2 separate regions of the Homo sapiens genome follow, and region 1 is linked to region 2. Evidence: fine-mapped expression QTL. A gene starts in region 2. The other region holds a variant in brackets. All regions are shown on one strand. Distances are from middle to middle. Region 1 overlaps PARD3 (par-3 family cell polarity regulator). Region 2 holds the start of PARD3 (par-3 family cell polarity regulator).

Evidence for each region.
Region 1: its variant is fine-mapped to the expression of PARD3 in whole blood (INTERVAL, PIP 0.98).

Annotation. Positions count from the first base shown.
Region 1 is chr10:34,737,069-34,753,341 of GRCh38, forward strand. The region is part of intron 1 of PARD3 (par-3 family cell polarity regulator); the gene reads right to left. Among named protein-coding and RNA genes, the nearest start is that of PARD3, 70 kb to the right of the region's middle. RefSeq lists an enhancer at 220-720. The variant G/A (reference allele first, on the strand shown) is at 7,776.
Region 2 is chr10:34,806,564-34,820,967 of GRCh38, forward strand. PARD3 (par-3 family cell polarity regulator) reads right to left here and starts at 8,733. Exons shown (of 25, transcript NM_001184785.2): 1 at 8,313-8,733. The coding sequence starts at 8,432. PARD3-DT (PARD3 divergent transcript) reads left to right here and starts at 9,205. Exons shown (of 2, transcript NR_108043.1): 1 at 9,205-9,238; 2 at 9,557-9,859. RefSeq lists silencers at 2,938-3,232, 7,972-8,251, 8,772-8,941, 9,032-9,081.

The DNA.
Region 1 (16,273 bases), 69 kb before region 2:
TGAGAACAGCAAGACACAGTTACAGAAACAGAAATGAGAAAGCGGGTGAAGGGGAGAAAGGGGGACGGAGAGAAGCAGGGGTCTGCAGTATTGACCTGGTCCCAAGAATACGGGGTGTTTATTTAGGTGGTTGAGCAAATAGTCGGTGAGGTCAAAGGTATCTCATGCATACAATGTGCCTTTCACTTTTCAACAGGAGCCAAGGGTTATTCTGTAACTATGTGCTCAGGCAAGGAAGATTTCCCACTTCTCCACTAACAACAGTCAGAAGCCAAAAGCTCCACTCAGGTGCTTGGCTACATTTTGCCTTAAAGGACAGCTGAAGTGGTGCGGTTACCTCCACCCCAACAAGGACTAAGAAAGACGTCTGCCCAACACTATGGAGCCGATTTTACCACAGAGGTGAAAATCCTATCCCCTCCCACAATGAGCATTCTATTTGGGGGAGGCAAAACCACAGTGCTCTGGTTTGAACATTTGTGTCCCCTCCACAATTCATGCTGAAACTTAATCCCCAACGCAACAGTAGAGAGGAGGTGCCTTTAGAAGGAGATTAGCCTTAGAAAAGGGCCCTCGGCTCCCCCACCACGTGAGTGCTCAGCTGCTAGGCACCAACCTAGCAGCAGAATCCAGGCCCACACCAGACACTGGCACCTAGTTTGGACTTCCCAGCCTTCAGAGCCGTGAGAAATAAATCTGTTGTTTTATAAATCACCCAACTTCAGGTATTTTCTTATAGCAACACGAATGAACTAAGACACACAGCAAACCAGCATGAAACATCTAGGAAAGTAGGAACACAAGAACACAGCACACCACGCTAGGGACGCCTGGGCCCGCAGGTGGTTCTCAGAACTGCCATTGAGAATGCCCACAGCAAAGGGCCCATTAGGCAAAGGCCCAGGAGGAAGAAGGCAACAGCAGATGGGGGCGTCTTGCTGAAAAAGCTGAGACTCTGGACTGCCTCATACAGGATATGGGTCTTACTACAGGCAATACCCTCGAATATTTTCTACTCTATTCTTTCTCTGTCTTTAAAGCCAATTTTAACCTACGAAGAAATACAACCTCCTCTTCTCCCACTCTTGCCCCACCACCAAAGACAAACACACATATGCTAGACTAACCATCCTACATGATACATGCATGTATGACTTTAAGGAAAACACTTCTAATAAGATAGCTGGAGGGAATGATCAGGATTTTATAAGCACCACTAGTCCTGGGAAAGCTGGTACTAGATCCATCTACTCAGACAGGAAGAATCCCATTTTCGTTTGTATTTTATTTTAGAGATGGAGTCTCACTATATTGCCCAGGCTGGTCTGGAACTCCTGGCCTCAAGGGATCTTCTCGTCTTGGGGTCCCCCCAAAGTGCTGGGGTTATAGGTGTGAGCCACCTCACATGGCCTCAGAATCCCATTTTTAATAAGCTCCACAGCACATCACTACCTCATTAAAATACCTCATTAAAATGGAAGAAAAGCCAACATACGGAGACCCCATCTCTACACATAATTTAAAAATTAACCAGGCATGGTGGCACTCATCGGCGGTTCCAGCTACCAGAGAGGCTGAACTGAGAGGATCACCTAAGCCCAGGAGGTCCAGGCTGCAGTGAGTGAGCTGTGTTCACGCCACCGCACTGCACTCCAGCCTAGGTGACAGAGTGAGACCCTGTCTTAAAAAAACAGGGCAGAAGAGGTCAGGGGGAGGATGGGTGACAGAGTAAGACCCTGTCTCAAAATAAGGGGACAGAAGGGGTCAAGGGGAGGAAGCCTATTGCCACTTCACACAAAGTACTGCTAATTTTATTTCTAAAATGTTTAGAGCACATTGTAGCATAAAACATAAAACCAGAACAAGCACAAATGGGGGTGTTCAGTAAATGGTAATGATTGATATATCTGAACAAAAATTTACAAATGGATGTAAAGTAACACTTCAGCTAGCAGAAAGTAACTCACTTTCTCCGTTTTGTTTAAGGGATCACCTCCTTAAACAAAATTACCAACCACTGAAATGTAGGTAAAGTTTTTATTACATAAAATGAAGTTGACAACTAAATGCAATGTAGCCCTCTGGACTGGATCCTGGCATAGAAAGAGGACACTAACTGAAAAACTGGTGAACAGCAAATAAATTCTGAAGTTTAGTTAAAGTCAACGTTGGTTCATTTTGACAAATGCATCACAGTGATGTAAGACATTAGCAAAGAGGATGAGGTGAGGGGTACACTCTCTCTACTATCTTTGCAGTTTTTAATAAATCTAAAGTTATTTTAAAATAAAAAGTTTATGTTAAAGAATGACCGCACCAGAGGGCTGTTCAAGAAATGAGGAAGGGATCAACCATATCAAGTACTACTGAGGAATCCAGCAAGATAAGCGTCCACCTGACTTATATTAATTAAAATGCTGAAATCCCAGGAGTGCTGGGAGAGAGGCGAGGGCAGGGGATCACAGGAACTTTGTTGCAGAGTTGCAGAAGGCCTCAGTGCTTCCCTCTGTCCCAGAGGTCCTGTGATATCCCCTCCTCTTGCCCTATAAGCATCACGGTCCTATTGCTATGAACCACCTTGTGCAACCTCAGTGGTGCTTTGGAATGTTCTAGAATGAATCAAAAGATCCTCACAGCTTTCCCTAAACTTAGGAATGCATCCTAAACTACTGAGTTCAGTATGATATTCAATAAAGTGGGAGCAGGGGATAGAAAATGCCCCATGCACTGACCTCTTAAATCCTGTGCAAGATTCTATGCATAGAGGATCTCTCTGCACATACCACATAGAATGTTTTCTGAAGCTTGCTGGAAAATATTCCCTATCTCTGTCAAAGAAAGGGAGAAAGGATAAGTCAGGAGGAGGGCAGAACCAGAGTTGGAAGGCAAGGACAGCTGCTACGGTTCACCCTCCTACACACTGACCCGCCAGCGACTCCGTGCAAGTTCATGGAGAAGGGAAGGGAAGAAAGGAAAGGTGTCAGCTGACTTGAGCTGGAGAGAGAGAAAAACACAAAGGCGACAGCTGGTGAGAGCCTCCCGTCCCCACCCCAAGAGGAGAAAGGGAGGAAACCTGAAACCACTTCAAGACGAAAAAGAGGCAGTCCCATTGCAGCTGGCTGCCTCCTCCAGTTCCAGCAGAGCTGGCCGGCTGGGAGACAGCCCCAGCCTGCTGGGAGAGCCCCCTGGGAGCTGAGCTGCAGGAGAGGGCTCCGACAGCCCTCCTGGGTTCTGAGACAGCAGTGAATTCAAGGAGACAAGGATGCTCTGAAGGCAAAAGGATAAAAAATGGATCAGTGCATCTGGTCTCCCTGTCAACAAACATATCCTTCTGATGCCACCTCTTTCACGACCCAAGAATCTTTTGAATCCATGGCAGTAGCACAAGACAACTTCCTTGACAATCACTGTGCCCGTTCCAACAAAATGCGGTTTTCTATCATCAGTGAGTGATAGGACTGTAACAGGTGTGTTCAGAGCTGAGCTGTTCTTCTGACTCCCGCCCCCATCTCCCCCTCCCACTCCTCCTACCTGTCAGCTCCCAGGGCACCCTAACTTTCACACCAAGCTGTTTTAAGGCTTCCAAAGGCCTCTCTCACCAGCCTCTTCTATATCATGTGAACAACAAATCACGTTCCCTCCCCTCTTTTCCTACTGATTCAGACAGAATCTTCATTCTGAACAACAAAAAATTGACGTATATCTTTTGAGATCTAGACTTCACAGCATAAAAAAATTGATAAAGCCTACTAATTATACCAAGTAGGGTAAACAGTGGTTAAATTTTTTTTAATGTGAAGCTTGACTAAAGTCTACTTACACAGAACTATCACTATATGAACAATATGGTAGACAGGTAATGTTGGTGTCTCAAATAACTAACTCGAGTTCAACTTTTAACAAAAGTATAAATGCAAATAATTTGTTTACATAAGACTTTTTCCCCCTAAAACAAATATTATAGCTAATTGGAACTGGCCTATTTGTGGGTGAACAGACCAACAGGCTAACAGACTATACTCAATACTACATCTCTAAAGGCAGTAAAATGCCAAACCTACAAATTGCCTATGGAAAAGTCAACTGCTGTGTTTTCGTAAACCAAATTTTTTTTTTTTTTTTTTTTGTTTGAGAGAGAGTGAGTCTCACTCTGTTGCCCAGGCTGGAGTGTGGTGGTGCGATCACAACCTTCTGCAGCTTCAACTTCCTGGGCTCAAGTGATCCTCCCACCTCAGCCTCCCTAGTAGCTGGACTACGGGCATGCACCACCACATCTGGCTAAGTTTTTTTATTTTTTGTAGTGGTACAGTCTCACTATGTTGCCCAGGCTGGTCTTGAACTCCTGAGCTTAAGCGATCCTCCTGCCTCAGCCTCCAAAAGTGCTGGGATTACAGGCATGAGCCACTGTGCCCAGCCTATTTTTATTTATAAAAAGAAAATTCTGGGTAAAGAAGAAAGGGAATATCTAATTCTCATTTAGGTGGGGTTTTTAGACACCAATCCATGCAGAAGCGACAGCCCCTGTGCAGAGGAGCGCAGCCATCTACAAATGGACCACAGAACAAAGAGAATGCCCTGCTGTCAGCACAAAAACTCTTCCCATGCTGGTCGGTGCCACTGTGATACCTGCTTCTGTGGAGCAGATGATCCTGGGATCCTATTGTCCCTCATTGTGTATGGATTCAGTAGGCACTACTGAGAAATCTCTTATAGTCTAACAGAAGTTAATGAAGCACATACAACACAGAAAAATTAACAAAAGTTGATAAAGTACTTCAAAAAGACCATTACTGGTTTTTGTAAACTCACAGGATGATTCCAGATTTTGCAAGCATTAGAATATAAAATACCTAAAAATTTCTTAAAATGTACAATATAACAATAAGGTAAATTCATAATAATCAGGTTCAGCGACAATACTCAGAAGCAATGAGACAATCCCATCCCATTGCCTGGCACAGGAACTGCCTATTTAGTTTTCAAGGTGTTTGTACTTCTTTTGTCTCAATCTCCCCAGCACAACCTTGGGAGGATGAAAATTCACGTGATAGCTACATGCTACTGAAACTTGGTTCTTCCAAGTTTCCTCCACTCAATTAAACCTCCAAATTACTTGCCTTTGATAACTATTTTTAATGACAAACTACAAACAATCACAGAGTTTACAAGGACAGGAACTGGGATGAGATCAGAGGCACTTGCCTCTGACACCAATGTAAGGGGGGGACCAAAATCTCAGTAGTCACGATAAATATCATAATGCAACAATTCAACAAAAGAGATTGTTCAGCTAGAGATCAACAGATTAATAGACTGATTAATAGAGATTAATCCAATCCACTGCCACAACAGATCTCCACGTTTGCAGTCCTTGGCTGGATGGCCTCTACACAACACGGCTCCCAGGGGTGGTCCCGTCTCACAGACCCTACAGGCCAAGTTCTTTACTTTTCAGTTTCCGTGTTCATTAAGTGTCCTGGAAGCAGAACTGCATCATAAGATCAATGGCAATTACTCTGACCTAAAAAACAGAGAATCTCATAGATGATCTAATGAATCACATCCCAACCAACCAATCCAGGGTTGATCTACCCACATCCTGTACTGCGTGGAGGCTTTTTAATACCAGTCACTACTAGGGAGTAAAACGTCAAAAAGAGATTGCATTCCTTAATTTTGCATTGTTTGCAATTATCTGTAAAAACTAATTTTTCAAAAGAAGAAGGGAGACAATGCAGGCAGCCTTCTCCATATTGATCGTGAAGAATCTACAATCACCAACAAGGCACAGCAGGCCACAACATCTGAAACTGCAGACCCTATGTTCCTACCACAGGCTCCTTCACTGAAAGCAGGAGCTTCGGAGTCACACGGTCTTGGGTGCCAAGTACCACTCAGCCATTTATTAATATCGCCAAGCCTCAATGTCCTTTTGTAAGAAAGGAACGTAATATCTAATTCATTGGATTATAAATTCATATGTTGAAGGCCTAATAGTATGCACTGGACTTAGCAAATATTCAATTAAATCTTATCATCATCATCTCATAATTATTTTTCCATTGTATCCTTCCCCAAACCAGAAAATCTCTAGGTTCCATGAAAATGTGTCCACAGAAAGAACCAAAGGCATGGCAGAGCTCCATGCTAGGCCACGGTACTCCTCTGCTGCTGTCTTCAACACCAGGTGACTGGTTTCCTAAGGAACTAGACACACAACTTGTCAACAGCATTTGTCTTCTCATCTGCACTGCTCCCAACCAATGACCCAACACAGCTTTGTCATCTTGGGAGAGAAGGTGGTGGTACACCTTCAGATCAGTTTCTTTGATTGACCTAAGAAACATACAACTGAATGTGGGACGCATCTATCCTAATAGGACTCCAACATAAATCAGCACCTGTCACACAGAAGACCACATCTCAACCTCACACTTATCTTTCAGAATAAACTGAAATCTACACTAAATTTCAGGTCCGAAAATCCCATGCCAATTAATAGAGAGCACAGAATCACAAACACAAGTAACCAAACTCTCCCGTATCTAAAAATCTGCTTTCTCGAGCCACAAAGACATCCTAACTAGCCTTGATAGATTGTACATACAGCACTGCCAGTGATGGGTATCTGAACTTGAAGTCATTGTTCCATTTCACATGAAGATTGAACCTGCACATCGGCTGTCTAAAATCAATGCCAAGGTTGGAGGAGGGAGAGGAAAAACAGGGTTGGTCTGAGAGCACACGGAAGCTGTGTGACTGCCCCCACAATCACGCCTGGCTGCAGCCCCCAGATAAGGGCATGGTGGGTCCTCCCCTGCCACCCTTCTCTGCCATATATAGCAGTGCTGGGCACCTGGCACAGACTCCCTTTGCACTCATGGCTGCCTGGAGAATTGCTCAGAGTAACAGCATGTCTCGGCTAGTTAAAAAGATCTCCAGACACTCTGAGCCCGTGAAAGAAGCAACAAACAGCCAGGCCTGAGCCAATCCAGATGACTACTAGAGCAGCAAAAATCTCAGCTGTGCCAACTAGACCAGTCACCACGCTCCTCACCGCCCATCTCCCTCTGGCCAAATGGCTCTCCATGGTGTCCCTTAGAAATAACAATAAATAGCGCAACAACTTAATTTTATAGTTAAAATGCAACAAGCCAGACAGTACATTAGCCATTATCCATGCAAATCTTGAAATATTTTCCATGCAAAATCCCAGTTTTAATACATAGTCACCATGAAGAGGAATTCAACAGCAAGGATATTACATTTACCATCTCAAAAATAAAAAAACTTTTTCTAAGTTAATCCAATATTTGGTCGTTTATGATTTACCTTCCAAGATGAAAAAGCTGAAAGGCTTCTTTTGTCCCCAAGGGGAGAGACTGCCAGCAGCTTTGAGGTCTGCCTTCCAGCTGTTTTTGTTAGATTTTTACACCTGCTAATGCCCAGCAACTAAGTGAGCATAAACAGGCATCGCTTACCAGCGTTTCACTGGAATCTCTTGATTTAACTTCCAAATTACTTGGCTTTGATAACTATTTTTAATGACAAACTACAAGGAATCATAGCGTTTACAAGGGCTGGAACAGAGGTGAGACTACAGGCACTTGCCTCTGACACAAAATTTAAGGGAGGACCAAAATCTCAGTAGTCAAGAGAAATAGTTTAATGTAATAATTGAACAAAAAAACTGATGCACAAAAATCCAAGATAAGCAAAATGCCAAAATTTTAAATAAAAACAGACTCATCTGAGTGTCCTGTCTGATAAGAGGG[G/A]AGATTAGAAACCTTCTCTCCAGATGGTCATCACAATCACAGGGGACCAAAGAGCTGCAGTGGACTGAAGGAAGTGGGTGCACACCCAGGAGCTCGGGCAACTAGGACCCTCTGCATCCTCGACCACCCCTTGGACCCTGTGGTCTCCCAGGAACCCAGTCTCTGGCCTGACCCCAGAAAAATCAACAGCAATAACCTAGCAACCAACCTCATCGTTTTACAAATAAGAAAAACAAGGCTGGTTGTAGTGGCTCACACCTGTAATGTCAGTGCTTTGGGAGGCCAAGGCAGGAGGATCACTTGAGGCCAGGAGTTTGCGACCAGCTTGGGCAACAAAGCAAGATCTCGTTTCTACAAAAAATGTTAAAAATCAACCAGGCTTGGTAGCATGAGCCTGTAGTCCCAGATATTCGGAGGCTGAGGTAGGAGAATCTCTAGAGCCCAAGAGTTGGAGGATGCAGTGTACTATGATCATGCCACCACACTCCAGCTTGGATGACAGAGAAAGACCCTATATCTACAAAAGATAGAAAAGAAAGGAAGTAAAAGGAAGGAAAGGAAGGAAAGAGAGGGAGGAAGGGAGGGAGGGAAAGAGAGAGGGAAAGAGAGAGAAAGAGAGAGGGAAAGAGAGAGAGAGAAGAAAGGGAAGAAAGAAATGAATACACACGCTCTGGGGTGTCGACTGTTGGAGGAAAGGCTAGGATAAGAATCTAAGCCTCCCACTCCAGGGCTTTGGGCATGCAATCCTCAGATGAACCATCACCAAAGGAAGACTCGGCAATGTGGACAGGCCTTCTATTGCTTAAAAAATTGTAGCTGGGCACAGTGGCTCATGCCTGTAATCCCAGCACTTTGGGATTACAAGTGATTTCAGGAGTTCAATGCTGCAGTGAGCCCTGAGCCATGATCACGCCACTATAGTCCATACTATGTAAAGGAAATGGCACAGTAATTCTTAGAAAATAATTAAGAAACGGCCAGGCGCGGTGGCTCACGCCTGTAATCCCAGCACTTTGGGAGGTCAAGGCACGCAGATCACGAGGTCAGGAGATCGAGACCATCCTGGCTAACACGGTGAAACCCCGCCTCTACTAAAAAAATACAAAAAATTAGCCGGGCATGGTGGCGAGCGCCTGTAGTCCCAGCTACTCGGGAGGCTGAGGCAGGAGAATGGCGTGAATCCAGGAGGCGGAGCCTGCAGTGAGCCTAGATCGCACCGCTGCACTCCAGCCTGGGCGACAGAGCAAGACTCCATCTCAAAAAACAAAAAAGAAAAAAAAATTAAGAAACAAAGAAGCCACTAAACAATAACTCTACTATCAAAAATAATTTCTTGGCTGGGCACGGTGACTCATACCTGTAATCTCAGCAGGAGGATCACTTGAGGCCAGGAGTTCAGGAACAGCCTGGCCAACAAAGTGAGATTCTGTCTCTACAAAATTAAAAAAAAAAAAAATTAGCTGGGCATGGCAGCACACACCTACAGTCACCACTACTCGGCAGGCTGAGGCGGGAGGATTGCCTAAGCCCAGGAGTTCAAGGTTATAGTGAGGTATGATCACCCAGCTGCACTCAACCTGGGCAACAGAGTAAGACCTCGTCTCTAAATATAATAATAATTTCTTAATACTATTTTAAAATAGTAACACATTTATTAAAGCCATGAAAGTCAAATGTCTCAAATTTAAGATTCTATGTACTTTTGCAAATATGCCCATAAGTAGCCCAAACTTGTAGCCAGCTTCATATCAAGTAGAAATAATCACAAGCATCTGTAATGAAAATTGTCAACTTCACTGATTTCACTACTTTTTAAATGATAAAAAATTATGAAAGACGCTCAAAAAAGCAGCTATGTACATACCCAATTTCCTTTCTGTGTTAAGTTTCTAGGTTTCCAGGAATCTCCTCTGACAAACAGGAATTTATTTGCTTCTACTAATAAATCAATTGGAAATAACATAAAACATAAATAAGTTTCTGTGACATTTTTACTAAAAGGGAGCCGTGTCTCCCTCTAGACAGCTGGAGAACAATCTTTCAGCCATGCCCAGGCGAGACACCCTGACTTCTGCAGTGGACACCCAGGCTGCCGGGGTTCAGGGTCACCACATTTCTGCTCCTCGACCCTTCCCTGCGGGGATTAGAAGGCAGAGAAAGCAGCATTGGTTCCTGCTCTCATATGTGGTTTTGTGGAAACCCTGCTTATCATGGAAACCAAGTATCTTCAATTAAAGATATTTGCTTCTGCTTCTGCTGAGATACTGGCTTCTGCTAAGATTATAAAGAACAGAAATTTGTACATTGGAAATCAATGTAAAAATCTAATGTACATTTTCTGACTGGTTTGCTTTTTTGGCTTTTTTTCTTTTCCCTTTAGCTTTAGGAATTAGGAATATCATTTGAGCCACGATTCTAAGGGAGCTGGGGCGGCAGGGGCTGCAGACAGCCACTCTAGAGAGAGACAGCATCTTTGGAGAAGACTAAGGTGGCAATTCGTTTTCCATGTGGAAATTCTTCTTGAGGATCTAAGCACCAGCCCAAACCACACAAGGTTATGTATTTCAATAAAGAGGCCATTTCTAAATGTTCAAAACATATTATTCTCCTACTTTAAAAAAAGAAAAGCAAAAATGGATCGCTAAATGCAAAGCCAAATCCTCATAGTGGTAACTTTTACTGACATCTTATCTCAACTAAAAATGAAAAGTTTTCATTTTCAACTACTCTTTGCCAATACCCTCTTCACTTAGCTTCAAGGGGCTTCCACGACACCCAGCCTGGCTCCCTCCATCTGAGTCTCTGAGAGCTGGTGTCGTGGTATGCCCACCATGCCAGGTTCCCTCACAAGAGTTCATCTAATCAAAGCTTCCATGACTAACAACGATTTAAAAGCCACTTGTGAAAGATGTTGAAACATGTTCACATACAATGAATAAAGTTTGAAAATGGCTTTTATAGGATGGTTCTGGGGCAGACACTGCAACTGGCTGACTCAGCATCCACTCCTAAGGCTCTCTCTCCCTGCCTTTCTTTGCCTACAGCGGCTGGAAAAGTAAAAATCTTGTACTCACTGGTCCAGGCTCCCCTTGTAGCTGGGCATGGTCACACGACAGTTTCCTAACCAAGGAGACCTAAACCCAGGCAGCCATGGAGCAGAGAGGGAGCACAGGAATGGACGTGGGGGTTACCACCATGACAAGCCACTTTGCTGTCCGGAACATCATGGAAAAAGCAGAAAATGCGGGAGGAGGTGTCTAGGTCAGCCAGCCATCAAGGGCTGCAATCCACATCTCAGCCACCGGAACCCCTCCATGCTGCATCACTTAGAAAGCTCTGCTCTTGGCCAGGCGTGGTGGCTCACGCCTGTAATCCCAGCACTTTGGGAGGGTGAGGCAGGCAGATCACTTGAGGTCAGGAGTTCAAAACCAGCCTGTCCAACACGGCAAAACCCTGTCTCTACTAAAAATACCAAAATTAGCTGGGTGTGGTGGCGTGCGCCTGTAATCCCAGCTACTCGGGAGGCTGAGGCACAAGAATCGATTGAGCCCGGGAGGCGGAGGTTGCAGGTTGCAGTGAGCCAAGATCAGGCCACTGCACTCCAGCCTGGGCAACAGAGCAAGACTCTGTCTCAAAAAAAGAAAAAGAAAAAGAAAGGAAAGGAAGCTCTGTTCTCAGTCACCTCCACATCCTCCCCTCCCACCCCTCGCTCCTCTGTAAGCACTCCACACCTCAGACAGAACAGACTTGCCCTGAAGTCTGGAATCAAACCCCCTGTAGCAAACTCTTCAAGTAGCAGCATCCCCCCCTGCTCCCACTCTCTCTACCAGCAAAAGCCTGGCTCACCTCCTCCGTAACACTGGCCAAGAACCACAAGGAACAGTGAAGTGGCTTCATTCATGAAGACAGACTTGAGCACCCGCTCCCTGCTGCAGTGCAGGCACTGCAGCAGTAGAGGTGGGTGATGGTGCCTTCTAATAAAATCCTATGACGCTGTAACTCAGGACACATTATAACATTCGGGCTACCACTGCACTAATCACTAAGGATGTTCCCCTCAGTTGTACTCATCAACACCCAGAGTGCCCCTGGGCCACAGGCCCTTCACAGTGGATGTTATCTTCCTTATCTTTGTAGCACCTGTCAGACCTGATGCACAACTGGCTGTTAAATACTAACGGCATGAAGCGTAACCCATCAACTTCAATTTCCTCCCACTAGATTTGTCCATTATGTACTTTCCAAATTCTAGTCCTATTCTCTTACTTCACCCCATATACTTTTGCTTTTATTTTCCCTTTATCTGTTTCCAAAATTGTAAATATAGCAGTCACATGTTCTTATGGTAGACCATGATGTCCTGACACCAAAAATCATTATGATGAAGTCTTGCATGTAGTTAGATGCTTCCTAACACCATGATTATTTCCCATTATTCTGGAAATGCTAGCCAGTGCAATTAAACAGAGAAGTAAATGTTTGCTACAAATACAGAAAGGGGGCAATGTTATTATTTGCACACAATAAAACTGCATACTCGGAAAACCCAAGAAAATAACTTGAATTAATATACAACTAAGAGGATTATTAGTTTTGAAGGTTATAAAAATGAAGGTTATAAAAAATATATAATAAAATAATAAACTATATATAAATTATAACCAGTTTAAAAAACATAATAAGAAAAAACTGAAAATAGCAATGTTAAGTTTAAATCCCTAGGAAATACTTAGCAAACATATAGAACTTATATGATGTATACAGAACTTTAAAAAGTGACAAAAAAGAAGATAAGTGAAAGAGCATTTAATATGTATTGCCGGATATATGGACTTCTTGGATAGTCAGAAGTAACTACTTGAAAGATGTCAGTTCCCTCCTAAAATAATATATAAGGCCAGGCACAGTGGGGCTCACACCTGTAATCCCAGCACTTTGAGAGGCAGGAGGGCAGATCACTTGAGTTCAGGAGTTTGAGACCAGCCTGCGCAACATGGTGAAACCCCATCTCTACTAAAAATACAAAAAGTTAGCTAGGTGTGGTGGTGTGCGCCTGTGGTCCCAGCTACTCAGGAGGCTGAGGTGGGAGGATCCCTTGAGCCCAATAGGCGAAGGCTGCAATGAGCCAAGATGGCACCACTGCACTCCAGCCTAGGCGACAGAACGAGACCCCCTCTCAAAAAAAGTACACACACACACACACACACACACACACACACACACACACAAAACCCGCAGTCTCAATTTAAAAATTAACAGAATTTGTGTTGTTTTCATGGGATGGGTCCACTTTGGCAAAATGAGTCAAAGTCATAAGCTTGGAAAATAAAAGCAGAAAATTCGCAAAAATTATGAAAACAAAAAACGATATGGAAGTACCTTTTTAGAATTAAAACCAGTTTGGGATTGAAAACAGAAGAAGAGAAAAAAACAAATAAAACAGTATATCTAATTCAGAAAAGGTCAAACATATATTAATCTATGGAAAATAGGACATTTCAAGCAAAAGCAGAAAAGAGTGATTATTTTTAAAATAAAATGATCAAGAAATTCCATTTCTAGAAAGCTACAGACACATTTGTAGTACCATTACAGTTACATCCTCTTTCTCTCTTTCAAACACACACACACACACACACACACACACACACACACACACACACACACCCTAAGACTATAGAGGACAGGAAAGCAACACAGAAGGCACAATTTACATGTTTACATTTACAGGAGAGGAGTGAGGAGTTAGGGGCAGGGAGCCTTATTTCTTCTCTGAACTAATTAAGTTTTATAAATGTTAATGCATTTTTAATGTTAATTTGGATTATTCTTGGTAATGACATAACAATTTTTTTTTTTTTTTGAGATGGAGTCTCACTCTGTTGCTCAGGCTGGAGTGCAGTGGCACGATCTTGGCTCATTGCAACCTCCGCCCCCCGGGTTCAAGTGATTCTCCTGCCTCGGCCTCCTGAGTTGCTGGGATTACAGGCACACACCACCACACTCAGCTAGTTTTTGTATTTTTAGTAGAGACGGGGTTTTGCCATGTTGGCCAGGCTGGTCTGGAACTCCTGACCTCAAGTGATCTTCCCGCCTCACCCTCCCAAAGTGCTGTGATTACAGGCGTGAGCCACCGCGCCCAGATGACCTAAGAATATGTTTTATTTACACTCTCTTACACTGTATATTAGGAGTGGGAGGCATAGAGATCAGTTCAGGTTTTGCCAACAGACAGAACCAGGTTCACACCCGTCACTTCCACACACTGTTGATGTGTCTCAGGGAAGCTGCTTATCTCCCATTAAGTCCATCCATTCAGCTGCAAAATGGGGATAATACCCTCAACTGAGCTGTTACAAGTATTAAATGTAATAAAAAAAAAAATAGCCTCGTATTTGGTACATAATTACCTAATAAATGGAATTGGTTGCTGTGCTGATGATTTGGGTCAAAATAACAATTATCTTGATACTCCATGCTTATAAGACAGAGAGGTGCAGTGGCCAAAGCAACTCCATCTCAGATATTAATCTGCCATGCTGACTTCTGATTAACCCCAGTTCTGGGAAGGCCTCTAAGATTTCCCGTTTATCTATTGCAGGAGCTGGCACTGCCCAGAGGTCAAACAACCTTGACATTATAGTACTTTAATTGTCCTACACATCCCTTCAGAGTCACCCTTTCCCCACAGTGTATCAGCCCTGGGTCTGGGGGTAGTGCAGAGACACAGACGTGGCTTCTGTTCCTAAGTCCCAATTAAACCTTTCTCTCTTTTTTTGAGATGGGGTCTTGCTCTATGACCCAGGCTAGAGTGTTGTGGGGCCATCATACCTCACTGCAGCCTCGACTTCCCAGGCTCAAGCAATCCCCCCACTTCAGCCCCTCAAGTAGCTGGGACCACATGTGTATGTCACCATGCCTGTCTAGCTTTTTTTTTTTTTTTTAATAGAGATGAGGTCTTGCTATGTTGCCCAAGCTGGTCTCAAACTCCTGGCCTCAAGTGATCCTCCAGCCTTGGCCTCCCAAAGTGCTGGGATTACCAACCTGGGCCACCTCACCTTAACCTAAATGTTTCTTTATGAGAAACTGGAATTGTGAGCCTCTTTCTTTAGCCTCTCAGCTTCCTCGGACTTTGCGAGTAGGTTTGTATAGGCCTGCCCACCAGAGAACGGGAAGTAAAGTTGGTTGTACATCTAAGACATAGTTTTCCTAATTTGTTAACCTAATGCTTTTCTCAGTACATGATAATTTAGTCATATTTTCTTACAGAATAACAATGTATTTTTGTGGGGGGGTTTTCTGTGGGATGAGAAAAACCCAGCTTCTAAGGTTGCTGCAAAACTGTCACATACTGGTGGGTCAAGCTTACCAGGGAACAACTCATCTTCTAATCACATTAAAATAAGTATGTGCATTCTTTTTGCCTTTAGCTTAAAAAAAAAAAAAGTAAGATAAAAATTAAAAAGAAATATGTGATAAAGGCTATCTCTGTCCCATCCCCAGTTCAAACCTTAATGAGACAACTTGAAAATAACTTATTCAAGTCAGCATGTCGTGCAGACATCACTACCAATTTGGCATTATGCACTGACTACTGCACTACTAACACAGTCAGCCTTTTATATTATTTATAAGCTTTTAAGACATGTAAATGCTCCTGAAGCCACAGCAAAAGCTAACAGTCTTGTGGGGAGAAAAAAAAAAAAACAGAAGCAAAGTCAAGAGCTGACTACTATGAAGACCAGCCATGGCACTGTGAAGTGTTTTTGTGTGATCAAGTGTAATCATTACATCAAATACTTGCTGCCTCTCAATTCAATAGAATATCTTTGCAAAATATTCAAGCAAAATGCACTTGCAAAGTGCATGTTGCATGCTATGACTTATATCAGAAGGCGGACGCTATTACCAGCCACACAACTTAAAGTGGAAAAATGGGAATTTAGTAATTAACAGAAGACAGTCCTTTGATTTGGGGTTATTATCTCCTTATGCAGAGACAGGGGCTGTGTGCGAATACCTCAGCTAAAGGCTAGTGTTTCAAGAAAGCCTATCCTTACCCTACCAAAACAATTACAGAGATTGGTCTCAAAGTCTGAGTGGAAATTCTCTTTTTCTAAAACTACCTGTTTTTCCAAATGCTCCATTCATGAGATGTTTTCTAATGGAAGAAAACAGCCAAGGCAGCAGGCTAAAGCCTCCTCCTTAATGCACTTCAGTCATCTCAGCCTGTTGTTTCAGTTCCAAGGACAGGGCCTCAGGATTGGTCTGAAAAGCACCTCGATTCTCCAGCTCCAGCAGGGGTCCTGATTGCTGTGTGTACAAACGAAGTCTCTCTTCTTCATACATGCCCACATGAGGAGCCAAAGGGGATGACACTCTATCCCCAAGGGCACTTGGACTGACAAATGGAAAAGCAAACTAAGAGCTGGGGACACCCTTGGAGAAGCTGGCAAATAAGCTCCAGGCAAACCTTGAAGAACAGGCAGACGACTGGT
Region 2 (14,404 bases):
CAAGCAATCCTCCCACCTCAGCTTCCCAAAGCTCTGGGATTACAGGCGTGAGCCTTCTCACCCAGCCAACCCTAAGCAAAATTTACCCTAACTCTGAATAGCATCCATTTGACCTGGAGAGCAAGCCCCGTCATTTCAAAGTTGGGGGGGTCGGGGTGAGGCAAAATATTCTCACAGCATGGAGGGAAGCAGTAAGAGGTCCTGGACCCTGTATAACCATCTGAAAAGCCACTGCACATCACTTATGGTCCCATGAGCACCAAAACAAACCATGCAGAGCAGGAGTCCCTGCACAGCTCAGGGAACTGGCAGTGGGAGTCCAGCCCAGCACCTCTGAATATGAGAACATGGGGAAACAGAGGCTCACAGAGCTTGTAAGATTTGCCAAAGCTCAAAATTTCTGGGAGCCAAAGCCAAATGCTGGAAAGGCTGGTCCATTACGTGCATCCTTGGGGCATTCTCAACCTCCACTGCACAAAGGTAGCTGGCGAGCTGGGTAGAAGGAGTCTCTGGCTAAAGAACAATTGGTGAAGCCCTTAGAGGGGGTAGGGGGTAGCACACAGAGACCAGGGGACCTGGAGGCTCAGCAGCCAGGAGCTTACCAGACACTAAACAGGACACATTGGACAGGCCTGAGAAAGCAGGGATTCCACACTATATGGAAAACTCCTAAAGACAGCCAGTTTTCATTTGAAGTGTTTTGAGCATCTCTGATACACATATATATGTCATTTTATGAAATGCTCAGAACTACAAAATACCTAAAAATGGAGCGTTGTTCATAGTGGCTTATGCAGTCTATTTTTCTAACATCTTTATTGACATATAATCACATAACCATAAACTCCATCCATTGAAAGTATACACTTGAATAGAACTGTGCAACCATCACCATGATCTTAGAATATTTTCATCATCCCAAAAGGAAACCTCATACCCATTCACAGTCTCCATGACTCCAAACTCCCAGTCCTAGCGGAACACCACTCTACTGTCTCTATAGAGCTACCCACTCTGGTCATGTTATAGGAACAGAATTATACAATATGTGGGCTTGCTGCTATGAACACTGATGTACAGGTTTTGTGTACACATTTTCATTTCTCTTGTGTGCTTGTGTGTGTGTGTATATATATAAAGAGTATATATAAAATATATACAGAATAGAGTACAGAGACTATATACAAAATATACTCTGTTTAGGTGAAAAAAATAAATAATTGATATTTAAAGTCACTTGGATGTGGAGCTTGAAATTTTACTTGCAAGGACCAATATGAGTTGATGGAGAAAAAAGGAATACACAAAAGTAATATTTAAATGGCAAAAACCACGTAAAGATAGCAGGCCAGATGCAAGAAGGCACAGACCTATACACGAAAGTTATTTTAACTTTATTTACTAAAATGTTTACTTATTTACTAAATAAGTTAAAACAAAGTTATTTTTACTTATTTGCTAAAATTTAGGCCAGGCATGGTGGCTCGTGCCTGTAATCCCAGCACTCTGGAGGACCAAGGCAGGTGGATTGCTTGAGCTCAGGTGTTTGAGATCAGCCTAGCCAACATGGCGAGATGCCGTCTCTACAAAAACTACAAAAATTAGCCAGGTGTGGCGGCACACAACTGTAGTCCCAGCTACTTGGGGGACTGAGGCAGGAGGATCGCTTGAGCCTGGGAGGTTGAGGCTGCAGTGAGCAGAGATCACGCCACTTCACTCCAGCCTGGGTGACAAAGACCCTGTCTCAAAAAAAACAAAAGAAAGAAAGAAAAAACTTGTAAATAATGACTAAAAGACAAAAAAAAATCAGTCATCTTTCTACTTTATTCACTGAACTCGGCATTTATTTTGATAAAGATTTGCTTTTGTACAGAAAAGGTACCCAAAACAGGTAAAACTGTATACATTTACTGATGTCCAGCTCTACTGCCATTGACCTTGGTCCCAGCCAGGAATGTTGAGCGAGTGGCCAAGCAGGATGAAAGCATGCTGTGTGGGCTTAGCATGCCATCTCCCCCGATGGAAAATTACCTATAGAAAGCACCTTCTGGCCCAATCTTACATGTTTATTTCCATCCTTGATAAAAAATACCGAGGGCTCTAATCATCTATGGGGAGCTCAACATCACCAACTTGCACCCAACTCTGTGGGGAGGTAGAACCTCCCAGGACAGACGGAGGATCCGTCTGTGGGTTTGCATCCAAGTGGGACTTTAAATATTCCCTCCACAACCAATTTATCCATGTCTACCACAAGCCAAGAAGCGCTTCACATCCGCCAGATTCTCTCTGAGAATCTCAGATCCTAAACATTCCTACTTAGTCCTGGCACTCAGCCAAGCATCTCAACTGACGGAATCAGAGGCGCCAGACCAAGCATAGGTGTGTTCCAGGGCCAGATTCTCACACAGCCCTGGCCACCTGCCTTGAACCTCGCCCAAGGCGAATCCCAGGAGGGTCCTCTGCTTGAGCTGAAAAACAAACTGAACTCCCTCAAGACAGCTGATACGAAAGAGTAACTTCCAAGTACTCCAAACCTCATTAAATCTTAGTTTCCATTACAAGCTGTTTGTGCCAGTAGGTCAAACACACCAAACCTTAAAGTCCTTTAAATTCACGAGTGCTGATGATAGTCCTCTCAGCAGAAGTGTATTTTTTGTGTGAGAGCAGTGTAACATGTTGATTCTCAGCTTTCTATTTACTCAACATTCTGACTGCAATGTGACAGACACGGGCTATTCACCAAGACTGAAGCTCAGCCACCGCTTCAAGCATTTCACCCGGAGGGAGGAAGGGCGCACGGATACACTTGAAAACCACACAGCACAGCCCAAGCATCTGAGTCGGTACAGGAGCTACACCCAGGACGTCCCCAGGAGAGGCAGCAGGCAGGGAGAAAGATCCTCTAGCAGCTTGGGATGGAGAGCCAGCCTCCTGGAGATGGCTGTCTGGGCTAAGACTCACGAATGAGTGCAAGGAAGGAGCAAATGTCCCAGGCAGAAGAAACAGAAAATGCCAGAACAGAGGCAGCAAAGTGTATGTGAGTCCCAGGGGGTGGAGCAGCTGCAGAGGGAGTGGCTGGAAGGCAAGAGGGGTCCCTACAGGGACAGGCTGTGCTCAGAAGGCAGGACTTGGAGAACGCGGGACAAAGGCGCTTCAGCACCAGAGGACAATGTGACTTGAATTCTGGAAAGATCAGCCTTTCAAAAATGTTTAGTTTCTTTTTCCTTTTTAGAGGGAAGGCAGAAAATGTTAAAAAAATAAATAAATAAATAAAGCTGCTTTCATTTCACTATTTTTATGCTTGCCTCTATTTTCTTTCAATCTCTGCAACAGTACAACTATTTTCTTAAAAGTTTCAATACGCTTGTAAATGAATAACATGCAGTCATACATTTATTCACAGAAAAATTCCATACCAACCACAAGATTTTTCATAAAAACCATGACTGTCATTGTTACTAATCAACAGTCTCCCGCCACCAAAAAAGCACATTTTCAAAAGTTTCTGTCCATGAGCTCAACTTTTTAAAAAATACAGGTCAAGCATCCCTAATTGAAAAATCCAAAATCCAAAATACTCCAAAATCTGAAACTTACTGAGCACCCACATGACGCCACACCTGGAAAATTCCACATGTAAGTACTTACCACAGACTTATTTTCAAGCACAAAAATACTGCATAAAATTACCTTCAGGCTATGTGTATAAGGTACGTAGGAAACATAAATTCTAACAATACATTAGACTTGGGTTCCATCTTCAACCTATCTCATTATATATACAAAAATATCCCAAAGTCCAGAAAAATCCAAAATACTTGTGTGGTCCCAAGTATTTTGGATAAAGGATGCTCAACCTGTAATAACAACAGGTTGCTATTAAATCACTCTAAAGTGATGTGCTTGGGGACAGAAGCCAGAGGCCCCAATAATCAACCTGTAATCAAGCCAATACCCGCAGCTTTTACTTCCCCAGCCCATACACACATGCAACACACAATTTTGTTCTCCTGATTGTGGTGCTGCACGTCATTCAATCTCACATTCTTACCTATCCTTCAATGAAATTACATGCTGCGTTTTTAAGTAAACAGGAAAAATCCAAGCAGCAATAGTGGGACACCTGGGAAAGTTCCCTGGGTGTAAAACTGCTTGGTGGATAAAACATATTGGTGATTCCATTCATCTTTACGGAGCAGCTAGTATGGGCCGGGCCCAGGACTTTAGAGTTTCCCTCTCATCATCCTGTTTAATACTTACATTAACCCTGCCAGGGAATATTCCACTTGAGATAATGGGGCTCCGTAGGGTTGGTGTACCCAAGGTTAAATGGCCTGTAAACCTAAGTCACCAAACCCAATACAAAGCTCCCCTATACCCAAGGTTAAATGGCTTGTAAACCTAAGTCACCAAACCCAATCCAAAGCTCCCCTACAGGCTGAGAGGAGAGCTATGAGGGAGGTGGGAACAGTGAGCAAAGGGGCTCCAGCACCTCCTTGCCCTCACTTTTGCCCTTCACTCTCTCCTTCCCCTTTTGGTCACTCAGCAACCTTTATTTAGAATGAAATGCTAAGGAATTATCCATCCAAACCTCATCTAAGGTTGCTCAGGTCATCCTCCTAGAACTACTTGTTACCCTGACTCTTAGCTAAACACCACAGTCCTTCCTACTGCACGAAGTCTCAGGGTCTTGCCCTGGCATTCTGTCCTCCTCAGTTTGATCCTGACCCCCTGGGCTGAATGCCTGAATCGCCTTTGTCCATACTGCCTTCCTGGAATGCCCTCCCTTTCACTTATCAGAATCGTAGCAGACATTCTGCAGATTCACACACCTAGACCCCAACTGCAGACCTCAGACCCAGAGCCCATCTGCCCCTGCAGGCAGGTGCCTCACCCAGTTAGCAAGCACTGCCCTATATCAAGGTCAGCCTTCCCACCAACCAAGCCCAGTTCAAATCCTAGTGACTAAATGAGACTCCCACACACACCCCATAATGATAGCACCCACCTCCAAAATCCAGAAGCGATTACTGACTGTATCACAGTGGTGCCAATTAATGCTACCACCTCCTGTTATTTATACTGTTATATATTCTTCCTGTCTCCTAGATTATACTTTTTTTTGAAAATTGCACGAATTCAGTCTTATATTTTTTTCATAGAGCATGACTTTTTATACACAGCAGCCCTTCAACCAACCCCACACAGCGCTGCAGCTCAGCACCATGTCCACCTGGAATCACGCGTGTCAGGTCGCAAGCGCAGAAGAACAGATGCAGACACGGTCCATCCTCCCATCCTGCGCCCTCATGAGAACGGTCCATGTAACGCGGTTCCCAATGTCTAGCACCGCACTGTCCTCAGCGAGGCTCCTAATGCAGATGGGTGGATGAGGATGAACAGCTATTCCCAACCATCAGTGATCACAACCACAAAACCATCTTTCAGGAGAGGAAAAAAGAAATGTCACACATGACTAAGCATAAGCCTTCAAATATCTACTCACTGAGGACATGTCTAGTATTAAATCATGACACTTCACTATCCAGAAAAATTGATTTGTGTAATCTGAAGAGAAAACAGCTCACATGCAATGCCAGAAAATTAGCCCCACCACACCAGAAAATGTTTACTGCAGAGAAAGCCTTGGTGATTTGAGAGTTGGGACCTTTCTCTTTTCCTTTTTATTTTTTATTTTTGGCTTGGTTGGTTATTATCCAAAGCCATAAACATGATCTGCCCACACTTTTCCCCACCAGATGGGAGCTCATCAAGCCACATGTCACCTAGCAACCTAAACACCACTCCACAACTATCCAGCCACCCAATTCTTCACACAGAATTTCTCTTGTTCTATTAGGCAATACGGATAAGGAACAGATAGAGAATAAAAGTTAAAACAGTGTTAAATACATATTAACACTTCCTCATCACTTAATATAGAATGGGAAAAGTAGTAAGAAAGACTAAAAATTAATCTTAATCATTGTCTAGCAATTTCAGAAGAAAAACGAGAAAAAGGAGACCTAGAAGACACTCCAGCTCTGGCAACATTTAAGGGTCAACAATCTTGGGATCCAATGACTGAACTTGGTATACTGCAAAGCCCCCGTTAAAATTCACCTACAGAACTCTAAGTTGTACTTAAAGAGCATGTAAGTGTTGGAACCCCTGACCCATCTCTGACCCTCCCTCTCATCTCCAACTCCCATGTCACTATCACCCTCCCTTCCTTCAGCTCATAGGCCCCTTTTCTCTTTGTGACACCTTCCCAGACACCCTTAAAAAACTGCACTCCCTTTTCTACGCCCTGTGAAACAACCACTGCTAATCGTTAATAAGGACCAGGTCCGTGACCAAGGCCCTGCACTCTAGCCACCCAGCATCCCAGAGGCCACCTCTTCTCCCCATGTCATCACCAGCTCCTTCACCTGGAGGACCCCGCAGCCTCTTGCTCAGCTTCTCACAGCCAGTGGGTCCCTTAGATGTCCAGCACCCAGAACAGTGCCATGGACACAGTCAAAGCTTCAGAATTTCTGTGGAACGAATGCCTGGAACAACTACATTTGAACTACTGCCAAACAGGCAGTTCAGCCTATGTCTATTTTGTGCAGGATGAAACATGGGACACAGTAGGTAAAACAATTTTAATCACATAAAATTAGTAAAGTGAAAGAAAATGTTGACCACCCTCTTCCTATTCAGGAGCCTAGACGTACTGCAGAGTGCATATTACTTTATTTCTCTTTCCTTGCACAATTTGTTTTGTTGGTTTCCAGAGTGCCTGAACAATTTGAGTACTCTTTTGGAACATTTAAAGCATAAACTGTCACACATAAACAACACTTAAAAATGCTAAATGTCCATTTAGATGGTTTTCTTTCCCTTTGTCAGCTTTGCAAGATAAACAGGTGCCCAATTCCCACTAATTTTATTTGATTTTCAATAAAAGAGTTCAACTGTAAGGAACATAACAGAGCTACTAAAGCCAACGTCTTCCATCCTTGTGTCGGGTCTCCAAACGTCCCCCAAAATTATCTTTAAAAGGCCAAATTTATGCTATTTTTTCCAATATATACTAAAAGCAAAACAAAAGTCTAAAAAGCTTTTACTTCTTAATTTCTGAGAGAACTGAAGATGCCACCGGAGTACCCTGTGTACGCTCAATAGGGCTGACCAAGCCACTTTCCAACGTCATTTGCAGCCCCCAAGCCCACAGGGGCCAGGCCACTGTCGGGAACAAATGGGAAATACTGCACCCAAACGAATGCGCTCCCCACCAAAGAGGACTCTACTACAAAGGAAATATATCCCCGGGTGCTTGGGAGAAACTTCAGCGTGGGCTGTTGTCAAACACAGACACAGTCGGTAAAACAATTTAACAAAACGCCTTTTCACTTCTGACACACAGTAGAGGAATGCTGTGAAGTGGAGACAATGTTATCAGTCCACCAGGAAAAAGGGAAATCCACTCAACTCCCAAGTCAGGCCCGGCCCCGCAGCCCAGCCACATGGAACCAGCCCGGGATAGGTAGGAGCTGAGGTCCTCGCAGGAAAACTTTTCATTCCGCGACTCTTCCAAGGTTGTGCTTTCCAGAGCCCAGCAAGTGGGATCAGCTCAGTAAATGCTCGCAAGCGAGTGCCAAGTGCCAGCGGTGGCCCTCCCGGGAACGCCTCCCCGACCCCAAGCCGGCGACTCCCCAAACCCTGCAGCCCCCGGACGCGACGGGCCGCCCCTGCCGGCCCCTACCAGCAGGGGACATGGAGGAAAAGCCCCCCGCCGCTGTTCCGCCCCCGCCCGAGTAAGGGAGAGGAGGCAGAAGGCTCGCAACCCGCCTCTGTCGGAAGGGCAGTCACGAAACTCTCCTCACACCAAAAGTTCCCAGTCCCCGGCCTGTGCCCCCGGGGCCTGGGAGCCGGGAAAGGCCTGGGGCTGGATTTCCCGGCCTGCGCCCCCCGCGCGCTGGCTCGGGGCTTGGCTGGGTCTGCAGACTCCGGGGAGGCGCCCAGGGCCGGCCTATGCGCCGCTGCCCGGCTCGCCCCGCGCTACCGAGGCCGGAGCTCCCGGGCGGAGGGTGAGGGCGGGGGCCGCGGGACCCGGCTGGGTGTCCCAGAGGCTGCGCCCCGGCCCGCGCAGAGAACTTTGGCGCCCGCAGTCCGGGGCGGGGGGCGCCCGCGAGGCCCGACCGGCCGCACTTTCCCTTTCCCCGCCTCCCTGCGCCTCTCCTCCCCCTTCCAGGAAGCGCCATATTGATCCCGGCGCCGTCCCCGCCGCCGCCCCCTCCCCGCCCGCGCCCCCGGCCCCTCACCTTGGCGATGGCCTTCCGGTAGCGGGTCACCGCCTGCTGGATGAGGCTGAAAACTTTCATGTGGCCGTCCCCGCACGGCACGACCACCCGGGTCCGTCCGAAGCACACGGTCACTTTCATGCCGCCGCCGCCGCGGGCGGGCCCGCGCCCCTCGCCGAGCGCAGCCGGAGCAGCCGAGGCCGGGACCGAGGACGCTGGGCGCGGAGGAGCCGCTGGGGACTCGGGCGCGCGGGCGGCTAGGGGCGCGGGCAGGCGGCGGCGACGCCGGGGGGCCGCTCAGCTCGCATGCCCGGCCCGGCCGCCCTCGCCTCGCCTCGCTTCGCCCGGGGCTTGCCTCGCCTCTCCCCGCCGCGGCGCCCGCAGCCTCCGGCCACCTGTTCGGCGTCGCGGCGCGCTCGCCGGCGGCTGCCCGGGGCTGTGTGGCGCTGGCGCTCGCTCGGGGCCGCTGGGGGAGGGGACGGCGGGAGGGGAGGGGAGGGGAGGGGAGGGGAGGGGGAGGAGCAGGGCAGGGCACACAACACCGCGCACATGCGGCAGGGGGAGGCGCGGCCGGCTACCCGCGCGGGGCGGAGCGCAGGACCGCAGCTCGCGCCCCCGCCACCGCCCTCGGGGGCCGACCTCCTTCCCTCCTTCCCTCCCTCCCTCCCTCCCTCCGGGGGCGCGGGACCCCTCGCCCCAGTGCCAGCACGGGCAGGCGGCCGTCTGCCCCCACCAGCCCTGGCCCAGGCGCCCCCCAGCCCCCTTCACCCCGCCCGCCCAGCACCCTGCAGGGCTGCGTCGCCCCTCCTCGGGGACGCCCCTTCCACGCCTCCAGAAGTCTCCACGGAGCCCCCCTTCCCCTTTCTTTGTCACTTTTAATCCCATTCCTCGAACTGGAGGGTTTTGGGTGCAGGCGCTCCCGGGGAAAGCAGTTTGTGCTCAGTGCGGTGAGTCCCCTCCTCACCGCCCCGGAGGCTCCAGCCCGAGCCTCTCCGCCCGCGGGGACTCGAGCCTGCAGCTTGCTCGGCTGGGTTTCTGCCCTGCCCGCTCCCTAGCTCTGCTGCAGGGCCGGCAGCGGCAGTTCTGCCTGAAACGCAAGAATTAATAGTCTGCTCTGGGGAGACAGTGGGGAAGCCGTGAGCGACCGGGCCTTTTCCAGAGGCCACTATTTACCTTGAAGTTTCCTGTTGACCCTCTGCTGACCCACCCGCTTAAATAGATTAGAACTTAAACATCGCAATTCTGATACATTTATTTCTTTGAAGTTCTGCAGCATAAGGAATCCTAACGCGAATCCGTGAACAGTCTATTCCGACGGCGCAGAGAAATCTCACGCGGGGATCCCCACGATGTGCCGGCGCTTAACGCAGACGCCCGAACCCAGGGGAAGGCTGCGACTCCGCGATGAGTGACATGCGGGCTTGAGACGTTCTAAAGGAACGTGGACCGAGTTAGGGAACGTAACTGAAGCTCATTTTGTCTTAGTTATGGACTATGAGTCCTTAATAAATGTATGTCATTATGTTTAAAGAATGACAAATGTCTGCAAAGAGTGGTCCCTGTCCCAAGCCCTTTCCAGACTATGTGAAATTCTTTTTTGCCAGTTGTTTCCAAGACACGTGAAAGCAATCAAGCTCCCCTGGGTTGGCGCAGAACTTGAGCACTTAAGAGCTGGAAGAGCTGGCGATCGACCATCCATCCCACTCCACCTCCAATCTTAAAACAAGGAAACAAGACACGAGGTTCGTCCGCTTGCCACACTCCCTGCGCTTTGCAGCACCGCAGCTGCCCCAGCATAGTGCAGTTTCTCCTAGGAAACATTGCCCTTCCTCTCCTCTCCCAGCCCTGGACCACCACTTTCCACCACCTGTCCCAGCAAATCAGTGCAGTGGTGTTAGCCCCATCTTACTCCAGGACATTGACCCAGGGCCAAAGTCACTTGCCCAAGGCGGCAGAGAAAGCTCAAGGCAGACCCAGAAATAGTCTAGGTTTCCCTCCTTCCACTCAGCCATGGGAAAGGCTCCTCCTACTGCTGTTTGGCTGCAGCACTAGACATTTCTAGCCAGTAATTAAGTTTGTGACAACGATGACAACAACTGTTGATGTGGGTTTTTTGCTTCTTACATAGATACTTGGATCCACAACAACAATTACTGATAATTATAGGTGTTGTTTCTGTTTTCATGCATTGGGAGAGTATACTACTAGTTTAGAATGTATACTACTTTATTTTATTTTGTGTTTTTTACATTTATTTATGTATTTATTTTTATTTATTTATTTATTTATTTATTTTGAGACCAAGTCTCGCTCTGTTGCGCAGGCTGGAGCGCAGTGGCGTGATTTCGGCTCAGTGCAACCTCCGCCTTCTGGATTCAAATGATTCTCCTGCCTCCGCCTCCCGAGTAGCTGGGATTATAGGTGCCCGCCACCACGCCCAGCTAATTATTGTATTTTCAGTTAGAGACAGGGTCTCACCATGCTGGCCAGGCTGGTCAATCCGCCCGCCTCAGCCTCCCAAAGTGCTGGGATTGCAGCGTGAGCCACCGCGCGGCAGAGAATGTATACTAGTTTTGATGCTACACTAGTTCAGAGGGGTATACTAGCTTGAGTATAATAAATTAGAGTGGGGCTTTCTCAAAATAATTCTAATCGAAAGTCATTTTTCAGTAATAACCAGAGTACATAGGACATCACACTGATCTAGGTTCAGATCCATATTTGGCCACTTACTAGTGCCTTAGACACAACAGTCACTCTTTCTCCAGCCCGTTTTATCAGCTGAAAAGTAGAGAAGTAGAGCTTATCATATCCATATCCATCTCATAGATCTCATAGGTTATGAGTCAGTCTTTCTTTTTTTTTGAGATAGAGTCTTGCTCTGTTGTTCAGGCTAAAGGGCAATGGCACAATCTTAGCTCACTGCTGCCTCAGACTCCCAGGCTCAAGCAATCCTTCCTCAGCCTCTAGAGCAGCTAAGACTACAGACAAATACCACTATGCCCAGCTAATTTTTAAATTGTTTGTAGAGATAAGGTCTCACTATGTGGCCCAGGCTGGTCTTGAACTCCTGTCCTCAAGCGATTCTCCCGCTTCAGCCTCCCATAGTGCTGGGATTACAGGTGTGAGCCACGGCACCTGGTCATAAGTTATGAATGTTAAATAAAATAATGTATCAGAAAACAGTACGGCTGGGTATGGTGGCTCACGCCTGTAATCCCAGCATTTTGGGAGGCCGAAGTGGGCAGATACCTGAGCTCGGGAGTTCGAGACCAGCCTGACCAACATGGAGAAACCCCGTCTCTACTAAAAATACAAAATTAGCCGGGCATGGTGGCACATGCCTGTAATCCCAGCTACTCGGGAGGCTGAAGCAGGAGAATCGCTTGAACCCAGGAGGCCGAGGTTGCGGTGAGCCGAGGGCAACAAGAATGAAACTCTGTCTCAAAAGAAAAAAAAAAAAACAGTACATGCTGCCACGCTGCCACATGGGAATGTATAGCGTAGTACAGTCCAGTTACCGTAATGAAGGCAGAGGGTAACAAAGTCCAGCACAGGATAGCAAATGATGACAGTGGAGGAGGCAGGAGAGATGAGGAGGACAGGAGAAGACCAAGGCTCAAAGAAATGACTAGCCAGGTGATACAACTTTCCAGTGACTGGGCTAGGACTACAACCAAAAACTCCAGCTCTGACTCTCAGGCCTGCACTCAATTCACTTAAATTTGATTCCACATGCAGTTAGTAAAGACCTTCCTTGCAGGAAGCACTGGCTAAATATTACAGAATTATAAAGGTGAGTAAAAGAAGGACAATCTAGAGGTCAGAATAAGATAGCTATTCCAATAACTATAATTCAACACATTAAATATTCAGTGCCAGCAAAGTGTTTATGGCGGTACTAGAGAAGGGGGAAGCTTTCATAACAGAGATGACATCAGGATATGTGGATACCATTTTATGTACATCAATTCCTTTAACTATTCAATACCTAATAAGGATATGGATGTTTTTAAAAAATATGATCCAGAGGATTAATAACACTGATTCCACCAACCAGATAAAGCCTTACAGCTGTATTTAAATCTACCTAGTTTATCTAGATGCAGTGATTCCGTTTATATTAATAATGGATGAAAAACTAGTACTGCATAATTCTAGATGCCAGAGCCTTTGGTGTCTTGAGTCAAAATTCATGAAAATTTTTTTGTAATTCATAAAATTTCATGACACATTGGGAATACATATCCAAGTCCTCACCTGCCCAAATAGAGCCCCCTTCAAAATATTCCAGGGTTGCCCTCAACCAGTCCATCAGCAACCATCACCAAAGTATCCACTGCCTTTTTTTTTTTTTTTTTTTTTTTTGAGATGCAGTCTTGCTGTTGCCTAGGCTGGAGTGCAGTAGCACGATCTTGGCTCACTGCAACCTCTGCCTTCCGGGTTCAAGGGATTCTCCCACCTCAGCCTCCCAAGTAGCTGGGATTACAGGCGTGCACCACCACGCCCGGCTAATTTTTATACTTTATAGTAGAGACAGGGTCTCACCATGTTGGCCAAGCTGGTCTCAAACTCCTGACCTCAAATGATCCACCCACCTCAGCCTCCCAAAGTGCTGGGATTACAGGTGTGAGCCACCATGCCTGGCCCTTCTCTGCATTTTCGTTCTCCTGTTCTGGTTCCCAGACACTGCTGGAAGGTATGTCAGCACTGCCCTGCTGAGAGAGCCCACTTTGCAAAAACTTGAGTCCAGGCTGAGATCACCACTTCTAGAAGCCCCGGTGTCACCCAGCCTCAGAATGCCAGAAAAGGCCCATCCCTGCAGAAAGTAAGCACCCATGTTTGCCATGACCCACCACTCAGAGCCCAAGTCCCCAGTCAAATATCTCCCTCCTTCCCAGGTCCCAGAGCTGAAGAATGAGGTAGCTTGTTGGTGAAGTCCATGAAAGTTGGCAGAACAAGGTGGAGGCTGGCAGAGCAGGTGATATTAACACTCAACTCTGTTAAAGACAAATGTGCAGCAGAGTGGAATAAAGCCACCTCAGCCACTCACTTTCTGGCGGGCCACCTTGACTGGAGGCAGGATTTGGAAAGTCCAGTGATATGAAGAGGTGCTTCGTGGTGATGCTTTATAAATGCCAGTTCTAGCTGAGCATGGTGGCTCATGCCTGTAATTGCAGACTTTGGGAGGCTGAGGTAGGAGGATCACTTGAGCCCAGGAGTTTGAGACCAGCCTGGGTAACATAGTGAGACTCTATCTATACGAAAGTTAAAAATTAGCTGGGTGTAGTGGCAAACACCTGTGGTTCCAGCTATGAGGCTGAAGGATCACTTGAACCCAGGAGTTTGAGGCTGCAGTGAGCCATGATCATGTCCCTTCACTCCAATCTGGACGACAGAGTGACACACTATCTCAAAAAATAAAATAGGGCCGGGCACAGTGGCTCACGCCTATAATCCCAGCACTTTGGGAGGCCAAGGCAGGTGGATCACCTGAGGTCGGGAGTTCAAGACTAGCCTGGCCAACATGGTGAAACCTCGTCTCTACTAAAAATATAAAAAATTAGCTGGGTGTTGTGGCAGACACCTGTAATCCCAGCTACTGGTGAGGCTGAGGCAGGAGAATTAGTTGAACCCAGGAGGCGGAGGTTGCAGTGAGCTGAGATGGCACCATTGCACTCCAGCCTGGGCAATAAGAGTGAAACTCCGTCTCAAGATAAATAAATAAAATAAAATATAAATGCCAGTTATTTCAGCCTAATCTTTGAGAGGGAAGTTCAGAGTCAAGTTCTTCGGTGAGGCTTAGAGTGCTGGCCTTCTAGGTTGCTGGGGGAAGCCAAAGGTGCAGGTAGTAAGATTGCTGCTATTTGGGGGAATTTCAGCATTTGAACCAGGATTCTCTGGTGGGTAAAAGTCCATCCTGCCTTCCCTCTGAGGCAGGCATGGCTTTATCAGGAACATAAGGTACTGAAAGTTAATTGGATGTGGTGGCTTACACCTGTAATTGCAGCTACATGGGAGGCAGAGGTGGGAGGATCACTTGAGCCCAGAAGTTCAAGACCTACAGAAAGTTAAAAATTTGGCCAAGCATGGTGGTGCATGCCTGTAGTACC